Homo sapiens: one gene and its partners. The protein of the gene in region 2 interacts with the protein of the main gene of each other region in a pairwise test. Each region holds a gene or a part of one and is shown on either strand. Other genes may lie near its edges.

Region 1 (3,651 bases), on a different chromosome or scaffold from region 2:
ATGTGTATATATACATATTTATGTGTGTGCATATATATGTATACATCCCCAAACTATCTTAATTTAACTTTAAATCCAGTAATACTTTACAATAGAACATTCTTACCTCTGCCAGAAAAATTACTAAGCACCAAATTAGCACAAAAATTAAGCTCTTGTGGACAGTAATATATCGAAGGTATGTGTTCCATGTAGTCACTGCTGGTATGCTCTCCATATCATCAAAAAAGCACTCCTGAATAAAAGAATTATGGCTATTACAATAAGACAGTACAGTTTCATGCCACCATTGTGGTTTTATTTTTAATATATGAAAATAAAAGAATAGTATTACTTGAATCTAAGTGTATTTTAACAAATATAAATCATTATAAATGCCATGTATGATGTCATTCTATAGCCAGAATAATGTCTACTGGAGCAACACAGCTTTATTAAAAATGAGAAACATCGTAATTTTTCAAAATTCTAAAAATGTATCACTGATTATATAACTGTATTATTATTGGACAATTTTACCATTAAAGGCTTAACAGTGGCATACCTTTTATCAAATGAATGATACCATCTAAATGAAGTTTCCCAGAACTCTCTTTGATTTAACCTGTTTCTTCAGGGGTCCATGGACAAGTACAGTTCAGTATACTTCTAGCTATAAAGGTCTTCCAATAGACTGAAAGCTCATTTGTGTTTGAACATTTCTTAGTAACTTAGGACTTTCTCTCTTTCCAGCTGTGATTTAAATTACATAATTCTCATCCTAGGCATATTCCTCTAGAAATCTTTGTCTTTTGGCATAGAAATACATTTCAAAAATTTGAAAAAGAGAGATTCCAGACAGTCCAAAGGAAAAAGAGTTTTGTTTCTCACAAAATCAACAAAACTCATGGGAAAGTGCTATGAATCACAAAGAAGGGCTCCTATGGAATTGGGATATAGTGCACTGGTTAGGAGTATGCATTTTTTGAGTCAGACAGATCTGGATTTGAACCCAACCTCCACCATTAACATCCTAGGAGCTGCTTGAATTCAAGCATGTTGCCGAACTCTGAACTTTAGTTTCCTTATCTGCAAATGTGAAAAATTTTAAATACCTTCCAGGGTAGTTGTGGGGACTAAATATATGCCACCTAGCACTAGATGCAATCCATTAATAGAAACTATTATTAGTCAAGGATATCATTCTTTACAACTAAATTTTTAGGCTCAGGACTGAGAAATTCATTTAGATTGATATTAAACTATATAGATGGGCTGGGCGCAGTGGCTCAGGCTGGACGTGGTGGCACACGCCTGTAATACCAGCACTTTGGGAGGCTGAGGTGGGTGGATCACAAGGTCAGGAGTTCAAGACCAGCCTGGTCAACATGATGAAACCCCTTCTCTACTAAAAATACAAAAATTAGCTCGGCATGGTGGTGCATGCCTGTAATCTCAGCTACTCAGGAGGCTGAGGCAGGAGATTAGCTTGAACCCAGGAGGCAGAGGTTGCAGTGAGCCGAGGTTGCACCATTGCACTCCAGCCTAGGTGACAGAGCGAGACTCCATCTCAAACAAACAAACAAACAAACACACAAAAAAACACTATATAGATGAATTATCATTTAGGAAACCTTCATAAAGTTTAGAAATACTAAAATTACACACTTTAGGGATCTATTTTATTCCCTCATTTTACAAAGAAGGAAACTTCTGCCTACAGATGTTAATGGCTTGTGTCTTGTCAAAGGTCATATTATTCACAAATGATCTATACTATTAAACATATCAATTCATTACAACCCTGCCCATGGCTCATTTCATCCAAGGCATTAAGTTTTCTACTAAAACAACAAAAACTCTCCTTTTTATATTATTTCCTGTTTTAAAAATAAAATGCTTTTATTCTTAAAACCTAATAGAACAAAATTTCTGTCTGAAGATTGGCACTAGTACATGTTAAGCTTATATACATTCTCTAAAAGAAATCTTTTCAGAAACCCAATGTATAAAGCAAACTCACAAGATAAAAAAAAGCCCACACTAGCTAAATTCAGGCAAGACTGATATACAAACCAGAATGTGAGTTAGTCCTATCAAGAGGCTAAATGTTTATATACCTTATATATGCTACTTCCATACAGATTATTTTGCGAGCTATAAATAATGAAAGCTACTATTTATTTATACAGTTATTTATACTGCACCTCTTCCCACAGAGGGTTCAAGATGGTAATAAAGCAAATGCTTTCTAACTTATAGTCACAGTTATCACTGGCTTAGTAGAGGACCAAAAACTAAATCCTTTCCCATTTTATGGGAAGAGATATGTCCATTGCAAAAAGAAATCATTTGTTATTTTACATTTTAACGTTGCTTGTATAATTAATGAACTTCATACTTTCTGAGTTTTAAGATACACCTTATCCTAATCCTATGATTTTAGTAAATTTTGTTACATGCTACATATTGCATTCTACTCAATTGCATTCTGTGGGGTGAAATACCCCCAAGCGATGTATACCTACCTTTAAGTCTTCTTCGTTAATTTCTTCACTTATTTCCAAGCCAGTTTCTTGAGATAACCTTCTTGAATATATATCCAGTTCAGTCAAGTTTGCCTGAGGGGCCAGTGACACTTTTCGTGTGGATGCTGTTGTCTTTCGGTGAATGTTCTGACCTTGGTTAACTGAGTGTGTCATCAGGTTCAGGACAGACTGCCTCCTTCGTGCCTGAAGCGTGGGGCCAGTGCTGATCACGCTGATGCGAGGCAGTATCGCCTCTCCCTGCTCAGAATCTGGTACTAAGGACAGCCTTCTCTCTAAAGGCTCATCAGAATCCTCTTCGATGCCATTCATTTGTAAGGGAGTCTTTTGCACAATGGAAAATTTTCGTATAGAGTTGATTGGATTGAGAATAGAATTCTTCCTTTTTTCCCCAAACTCTCCAGTCTGTTTAAAAGATTGTTTTTTTGTTTCTGTCCAGGAGACAGGAGCATCTCCTTCTAATGAGAAACGGTGTAAGGTCTCAGTTAGGATTGAATTTCTTCTTTCTGCACTAAATTGGTCGAAAGAATCACATCCCATGAGTTTTGAGCTAAAGTCTGGCTGTAGATTTTGGAGTTCTGAAAATGTCCCATAAAAATAGCTGCTACCTTCATGCAAAATTAATATTTTGTCAGCTTTCTTTAAATGTTCCATTTTAGAAGTGACCAAAATCCTAGTTTTGTTAGCCATCAGTTTACAGACACAGCTTTAAGATATAAAAACATATAAATATCAATTTTATAAATACTTTATTGCAATATGTCTCGTATTTTAGCATTTTGTTAATGTTTTATTGCATATAATCTCTATCATACAATTTTATTATATTTTAAATGATTCTATAAGTACTCTGTAGTAATTAAATTGGTACCTTGTGAATTCTGATAGCATGAAATAACATGCTATATTGAAAAGTTGCATGTTAACAGACTGAGAATGAAATTAAATTTCCTATATTAAGTAGATATTTGACTTTGAGCAAATCATTTATCCTCGGGGTCTCTCAGTTTATTTATCTAGAAAATGAGGAAATTATTAGATGATCTTTAAGGTCCCTAGAGATTTGTACTTCATTTCTTTTAAATGTCAGAGCTTTGTTGCTCTTTAAATTTTCTATTAATTTCTT
Region 2 (4,294 bases):
ACTTTATATTATTTTTTTTTAAGAAAAAAAGCTCTTTAAAATACCTCAAGACTGTCTCCCTGTTCTGTTGCTGCTATGAAAATATAAAAACAGAAACATAGAAAAGGAAGGAAAAAAAATAACAAAATGAGTGTCCTTACTGTCCCCAGCCCTACCCTGGGAGGCTGAGATGATAGGCAGCCAGACTCCAGCTCCCATAGCTTGCCTGCAAAAGTCTCTTATGCTCATTATTATTATTATTGTCATCTTGTCATTTTCAATAGTGTGAAAAATGTTTGTGTCACTGGGGTAGTCTTTCCAGACAGGATGATGAGGCGTGTGGCTCTGAATGAGTAAGGCTTCCTGAGTCTTGACACCAGAGACGACTATGGTCCCATTGGGAAGAGAAACTCGAGAGGGGGAGCTGCACTTCTGGCTCTTTCTAGGATCCTTGCCCCGAGGGTCTGGGAATTGGCTTGTGACCCTTTTCTGGTCCTTCAGCAACCCTAGGCATCCATCCCTCCCTGAATTATTGCCTGCTTTTCTTCAGCTGTTCCTGCAGCCTCATTTTCTCAGCCACTTAGGGAGCTTGAGCTGGGTTGGTCATTGCTGTTGGGATATTCCTGTTTTCTATTGGACAGCCTTCCTTCCCTGCCTGTGGGTTTGCCTTTAAGGAAGGGGTAGAACCTTTCCCAGGGAGGCCTCCTTGGGTTGAACCACCCCTTTTTTGGAGGCAGGAAGGGAAAAGGCATCATCACTTGCAGAACTGGTGGTGTGGGAGGCCACAGGAGTGTGGGAGGCCTTGGTCCTTCAGGATCACCTGGCTCCTCAGGGCTGAGCAGCTGCTGAGGAGGCGGCAGGGCTGGGAGTGCCCTAGTTTTTCCATTTATCTCGCTGGGGACCACTCCCGTGCAGATGCGAGAGGAGACTTGCATTTCCCTCCTTTGGTCCACCAGGTTCAAGGCACTATATTTTGGCGATGTCCTTTCCTATTCTCCTTGCTCTTAGGCATGGAGGAAGCTTGTTCCCTGAACAAGACAAAATGAGGTGACAGGAGACAGTGCACAGCCAGGGAAATCCAGTACTACTAGAAATCGGCTCCAAACACTTGTTTCACAGTCTTGGTTCAGCGTACCAAGTGTGTGATTTGGGGTTTCACTGAAATCGTTTGCCACAAAAGTAATTTCCACAGGCTGCTTGGGATTTAGGCCCTTGTAGACAGACACACAGATACAAATGAAGGTGGGCTGGGAACTGTTCGGTCCCCTTCTGCCTCCGGGCTCTCGCGGGAGCGGGCCTCTCCGGGGCACTCGCGTTTCCCCCCCAGCCCCCAGAGGGCGCTGTGGGCCACTCCGCCGCACTGCCGGCGGCGTCCCCGGGGAGGAGCCTCTCCTGCAGCCGCCACCGCCTCCGCGATCGCAAACCCGGAAGACGTGTTCGGGCAGCTGGAGTGTACGGGCCCGCGGGCCACGGCCATGCAGCCCCTGGAGGTAGGTCTGGTTCCCGCTCCAGCTGGGGAGCCGAGACTGACCCGCTGGCTGCGGAGAGGCAGTGGGATCTTGGCGCACCTGGTAGCTTTGGGCTTCACCATCTTTCTGACAGCGCTGTCCCGGCCAGGAACCAGTGAGTGTGCGGGGCGGGGTTGCGGAAGGGGGCGGAGTGGAGATGCTGGAGGGGCAGCGCTTGGGAGCCCCGGGAGACTTGGAGGAGGGACCCCAGCAGTAAAGGGGAGACAGAAACAGTGGAGGGATTTTGAGGGCCTGGTGGGGCGGGGCCCCAGGGATCCTGGAATAATGGGGTTTTGGGTGCTGTGGGGGAAGGGCAGACGATTGAACAGACCGAACTACTTCCTCAGAAACAGGTCCCCTGATGGAGGATAGAAGTGAAGGAGGCCGGGCGCGGTGGGTCATGCCTGAAATCCCAGCACTTTGGGAGGCCGACGCGGGTGGATCACTTGAGGTCAGGAGTTCGAGACCAGCCTGGCCAACATGGTGAAACCCCGTCTCTACTAAGAATACAAAAATTAGCCAGGCGTGATGGCGCGCGCCTGTAGTTCCAGCTACTTGGGAGGCTGAGGGAGGAGAATCGCTTGAACCCGGGAGGTGGAGGCTGCAGTGAGCCGAGATTGCACCACTGCACTCCACCCTGTGCGACAGAGCGAGACTCCGTATCAAAAAAAAAACAAAAAACAACAACCAAAAAAAACAAAAAACAAAAAAGGGGCAGAGGACTGGGCTGCCAGCTGAGAGGTGCTGAACGGGGAACCCGGGCCAAACTGTTGTATGTGTGTGGATAAGGAGGCCCTCTTGGTTGCTCACCCTGGGGCTCCTTGGCTGCTCCACTTTGTCCTTAGTTCCTGTGCCCGATTAGGATTGGGGATGGTACTTTTCTCCTGTGGCTAGATTCTTTGGGTTCCACCTAGCTACAGGGGCAGGAACAATGGTACCAAGCCCTCAGCCTGTTCTCTTTGATTCTTAGGTCTTTTCTCCTGGCACCCTGTATTCATGGCCTTGGCGGTGAGTTTAGGCTTCTATCTGATTTGTTTGGGTATTCCTCACCTCATTCTCCCAGGGAAGCACCCAGCTTTCAGAAAGCTCAGCCTTTCTAAGGCTAAGACAGGTGGAGGAAACATCTAGGGCTCATCTTTCCCTGCAGCCTATGGGATTGGGAAACCTGGAGGGCTGGGCCATAGGCAGTTGTCAGATGGTTGAAAAGGGCGGGAGGGCATGGAAGATAATTTCTTTCTCCATTGGGGCCGGAAAGGAGAAGGGGGGAGAGGTGTTATCCGGTCATCTCCCGACTTGTCCCCAAAGTTCAGGAAGAAGTTTAACATTTGCTACTCCACTGGTCAAGAAATGGGAGTCATTGTAGAGGTTGGGATGGGGAGATGTCAACCTGAATGAGGAGACGTGCACTCAAGTGCTGATTCCCAAATGTTCCCAGAAATGTTGAGCTGTGAGGCTGGTGGTCCTGGTTGAACTTATTTAACCCTTACCCTTTGTCCTCTTTGTTAGGATGTATGAGAGCACCTCCTTTTTCTCAGGCCTCCAAGCCAGACATGAGGCTTACTGGCTCTCTCCTATGTTCACAGTTCTGCCTCTGCATGGCTGAAGCCATCCTACTCTTCTCACCTGAACACTCCCTGTTCTTCTTCTGCTCCCGAAAAGCACGGATCCGGCTCCACTGGGCAGGGCAGACCCTAGCCATCCTCTGTGCAGCTCTGGGCCTGGGCTTCATCATCTCCAGCAGGACCCGCAGTGAGCTGCCTCATCTGGTGTCCTGGCACAGCTGGGTGGGAGCCCTGACACTGCTGGCCACTGCTGTCCAGGCACTGTGTGGGCTCTGCCTCCTTTGTCCCCGGGCAGCCAGGGTCTCAAGGGTGGCTCGCCTCAAGCTCTACCATCTGACATGTGGACTGGTGGTCTACCTGATGGCTACAGTAACGGTGCTTCTGGGCATGTACTCAGTATGGTTCCAGGCCCAGATCAAAGGTGCGGCCTGGTACCTGTGCCTGGCACTGCCCGTCTATCCAGCCCTGGTGATCATGCACCAGATTTCCAGATCCTACTTGCCGAGGAAGAAAATGGAAATGTGAGTTCCTGCGAACGCTGAATCTAGGTGGGACGCTTGCCTTGAACATCATGGTTCCTTTGGTGATCTATAAGGGATCTATTTAAGAAGTGGTCAGGTTTTCGCACTTCTTGGCTGGTCCAGGGACTGCAGAAACCAAAGCTGCTATTGTTGAGGAATAATTCAGTGGGTCAAAATGGGGAGATGTACTGGGTATGAGTGGAAGGTGATGGAGAGCCTGATCCTGAAGCCTCTACTTGATGAGAGACAGAGTTTTGGGTGGTGATAGTGATGTGCTGGTGGTCATTTCTTGCTTGTGTGCCTGATGAAAAACTGGGTTCCTGTAAGTTATGAATGGCATCCAGGGATATTTGGGTTACTTTTAAGAAAGCAGTGTGATGTAGTGGAGAGAGCCCATGGGTCTTATTTATGGGATATGGTCCTCTTAGGCTCTGTTGTACAACCTTAGGTACATTCCATATCTTAAGACCACTGTTTCTTCATCTGTGAAATGTTTCTAAACAATCTCTAAGTCCCTTCCTTCTCTAATATACAGCGTCTGTCAGGTCGATGTCTCAGAACACTCTCCCAGCTGTGGACCACGTGGACCACTTAGCAGACTCAGGGGGTAGTTCTTTACTCTCCCTTTACTACCCTGGAGGGACAGCTCTGCCCTTGAGGCCCTTCAGAAATTTGTGCTGATTTGGTCCCTGTGCCAGGGCACAGGGGGTCAGGCACTGTGGAA
Region 3 (3,651 bases), on a different chromosome or scaffold from region 2:
ATAAAAGCTCGAAAAATGCGTGATCCAAACAAAAGCCCGAATACCAGTGCTGTGCTGGTATTTTCTTTGGCATAAAACTGATCAGAAACAGGACTCACCACCCTATTAATCATTGAGTGGGAGGGATGTTTTCACATTGTGTCAAATGGCCAACCTTTCAGATTTGAATTCAGATTTTCACTTATTTTTAAGGAAATGTGCACAACACACAAGCAGGCATGATACAGACTAGCTTAGCAATTCAGCCATGTTATATAAGGATGTGTGTTCCTCCCAGCCACTGTATATGTGAGATAAAGAAAAAGGGGGGGAGGGGCAAATCAGATATCCTTAGGGGGAAATTTTTTTAAATGTACTTTTGTGGTCTCTTGGCTTTTCACAGGAGTCTTTATATTCCATCCATATTACAGCTTCATTTATAACATTTATTTGGGTGCATTCCGAGCTTTCATGTTATCTACACAAAGTCAGCCATTCATCTGCCCAGGTCTTGATTACCCTCGCTTTTTACGTTGTCTCTAATCATCCTGATACACGATGGCTGACACTTCATTACGGCAATAAAAATAAGTATGAATGAATTTCCAGGGGTGGGGAGGACTTTGTGGATCGAAGTTGATGTGTAGCCTTTAAAAGATTTGCTAGCAAATAAAAAATGTGAAATATGACATGAACATTCATCACCATAGAAACGTCATCTTTTTAGATTGCAAACATTTTGCTGATGAATTAGCAGTATTACGCTAATCAATAACAAACATTCTTAAAATGTTTGCTGTGAGAAGTTTAGTTCTTTTTTTCTTTTTGTTCACATTATTTGTACCAACAGAGAAGAAAGGTAGGCATACAAAAAGCCTTGGGACATAGATTTCTATCAAAGTCAGGCTATGGAATAGGAGTTTTGAAGGTGTATTAGACATCATCCTCAATTAACGTTCATGAAGAACCCACGTGATGTTTATACCAGGCATTAAAAATTTTCCTACCCCTCCTCAGCTTTTCCTGCATTCATAGTGCAATCCTGGGTGATGCTTTTAATTCATTTTTTGACCCATTCCCCATACCTTATATTTAGATACGTTAATAGTAAATTGCCACCTATTGTTTGTATTGCTACCAAACCAAAAAGAACCTATGGAAATGTTTTGTGTCTTCATCCTTGAAAGCTAGTGGTGCCTGAAATGCAGTCTACAGAGTTAAGATAATGGGAACTGCAAGTCAATGAAAGTAATAGTTCTGTCTATCAACGTTGCATTTAGTGCCAGGAAAAGATGGGCTAATTCAATACTTACATTTTGCCATAATGCTTATGAAACTGTTAGGTGTCACTGTAATGCATTTTATTTAAAGTTCAGATAAAAATGTGATGGATTAAGTTGGATTTCTAAGCAAGGCATATCAATTCAATCTCTCAATAGTTTTCATAACATATTTAGTCTGCTGGCCTTTTCCTTCAAATAGCATTTCAAAAAATTAACAGCAGTCATTTTCTCTATTCAGCTGGCAACTTTATAGATTTCTGTGCTATAACTGTCATACTTGTCATCTAATGCTATTTAGGGTATGTCAAATTAGTTACCATCCTTGCTACTACCAGACATTTTAATACTCCTCAAGAGATTATTTTATAAAATGCATATTATCATCTTGTTTCTACTGAGAGACCTTAACCTGATTTCCACTTGGGCTCCAAGCTTAGAGAGGAGTGAAGGGCAGTGGGAAAATGAAGTCTTCATGGATTGTTAAAATTACCTCTGTAAAAAGAAATGTTGGAACACGGAAAACTGAGCAGAGAATGATAGAATTCCAGAATAATTTGCATTTGCAGAGATCATTAGATTTGGTGCTAGTGGTGGTGGTGCTGGCTGGGGAAGAGTAGGACTTAAATGTGGTCCTGAATCTTTTACCAAACCATCAGACAAAGGGAATTAAGCGTCAGTAGATGAGGCAGCCCTAGTGTGAGTGTTGCCAGGACATAAAGAGCAGTTTGGACCGACTTTTGGCCTCTTCCCAACTGATCATGAGCACAGGGTCAGAGTTGCCTGAGGCTGGTTGTTCGCAGAGTCTGCGCATCCTTCCGGGCTCATTTGCTAGTCTGCAGGGAGCATCCCTGAGTCTGAGCAGCCAGTTCTCACATCTCAAGCTCGCCACCTTCCTGGCTGCATAGGCTGTGTGGCCACCCAATGGCTGACGCAGTGCGCTCTGCTCCCATCACAGGGCCTGGCAGGGTGGCGACAGCAGCAGGAGGCCAAGGGCTGCAGGGACACCTGACCTATGGGGGCAGGTCTCACAATTCCTTGGAGAGAGCCCTGCCTTGATTTGCTGGGCAGCCCTAGGAAGCAGCCTGTAGGGGCCACAGGATGGGAGCAAATGTCACTAGGGGAATATTTCTGCCAGAAATCGAGAGAGCCTGTTGATCTGACCTGTCAAACTATCTCCCTCCCTATTTTCACATCATCATCAGGGAATGAAATTTTTGAGGCAGGAGAGATTCAGGTGAAATGGCAGAGCAAGGTCAAAATATATATAGGGAGGAAGGGAAACCTAGCAATGAAAGCGTCAAACCTGTTTTCACTGTTTACGGAAAGTTATCATCAGGGTGAATTGGCCTTCTGATATCCAGAGGCACAACACACCCCTCACAATCTCTCTCCATCTTATGCACAGGTTTTCATTCCCAAGTTTCCCTAGAGTTAAATACTGTCTAATCATAGACACCACATTCATCCAGAAAATGAATATGAATTATAATCCTTATTAATTTCCTCACTTGAAAAAAAAAGGGTTAGGGAAAGAGAAATGAAGGAGCATCGGGAGGGAGGAAATGGCTGTGATTTCAGCTGCGAGCATAATGAAATGGGGAGTCAATGAGGCAGAGAGGAGTGAAGGGTTGCTCCAGACCTCAGTGGCCACAGCAGCAAAAAAGCCTTCTCACCCTTCGTGGATGGGTAAACTGAGGGGGTCAGCATCAGAGATAGAGGGGTACCACACGAGGCCACAAGGACATAAAACAATGCTGGAGAATGTACAATAGATACACAAGTCCTGATCCCGCTAAAATGGGCTCCCTCCCAGCTTATATCTTTACCCAGTGTCTGTCTGGCCACATGCCTGAGGCTGATAAGAGAGCACTCCAGTGCAGGAGATAAGCTAGCCATTGACTTTTGTCCCTGCTCTTCCCCATTGCCTTCCTTTATCTTGTTTTGCCTGTGCTGGAGATGAGAGACAATCACATCCCAGGCTTCAGACAGATGTCCAGGATGTGGAAGATACCTTTTTATCAGATGCTATTTCCACAATGGCCCATCTTCTAAAATTTTTGCTGCTGTGCAAATCACGGACCTATCGATGACAGGCTTTTGTGGAGCAAGAGGAGAAAACTGAATGCTAATGACATATTTATAATCACATTTTAAATAATAGCCTCAGGAGAGTGTGGATGTCAATCCATTTAGAGAGTTTTAGAGGAATCTAGAAGTTAATTAGATAAGCCTTGCGATGGACTAATCAGTCGATTGAGTATATCTTTCTGTATCTTGTTGATAAAACAGTGATGTTGACTGTATGTGGCCTTATTTTAAATCACAACTATGGAGGAGCGCTGTTGTTTATAATTAACAAAGAAGAATTGACAAGAATTAGCTTTGTCCA

What was found.
Region 1: the proteins of CYB561D1 (region 2) and CFTR interact in binary tests that used the Homo sapiens proteins (3 or more experiments, as listed by UniProt).
Region 3: the proteins of CYB561D1 (region 2) and GAD2 interact in binary tests that used the Homo sapiens proteins (3 or more experiments, as listed by UniProt).

What each region holds. Positions count from the first base shown.
Region 1 is NC_000007.14:117,591,514-117,595,164, reverse strand, and holds part of CFTR (cystic fibrosis transmembrane conductance regulator), read right to left. Parts: intron 3,232-3,651; coding exon 2,508-3,231; intron 236-2,507; coding exon 107-235; intron 1-106. UniProt on the Homo sapiens protein: Epithelial ion channel that plays an important role in the regulation of epithelial ion and water transport and fluid homeostasis. Mediates the transport of chloride ions across the cell membrane.
Region 2 is NC_000001.11:109,492,686-109,496,979, forward strand, and holds the start of CYB561D1 (probable transmembrane reductase CYB561D1), read left to right. Parts: upstream 1-1,408; 5' UTR 1,409-1,454; coding exon 1,455-1,602; intron 1,603-1,834; coding exon of another isoform or gene 1,835-1,938; intron 1,939-2,457; coding exon 2,458-2,495; intron 2,496-2,993; coding exon of another isoform or gene 2,994-3,070; coding exon 3,071-3,574; 3' UTR 3,575-4,294. UniProt on the Homo sapiens protein: Probable transmembrane reductase that may use ascorbate as an electron donor and transfer electrons across membranes to reduce monodehydro-L-ascorbate radical and iron cations Fe(3+) in another cellular compartment.
Region 3 is NC_000010.11:26,219,626-26,223,276, forward strand, and holds part of GAD2 (glutamate decarboxylase 2), read left to right. Parts: intron 1-3,651. UniProt on the Homo sapiens protein: Catalyzes the production of GABA.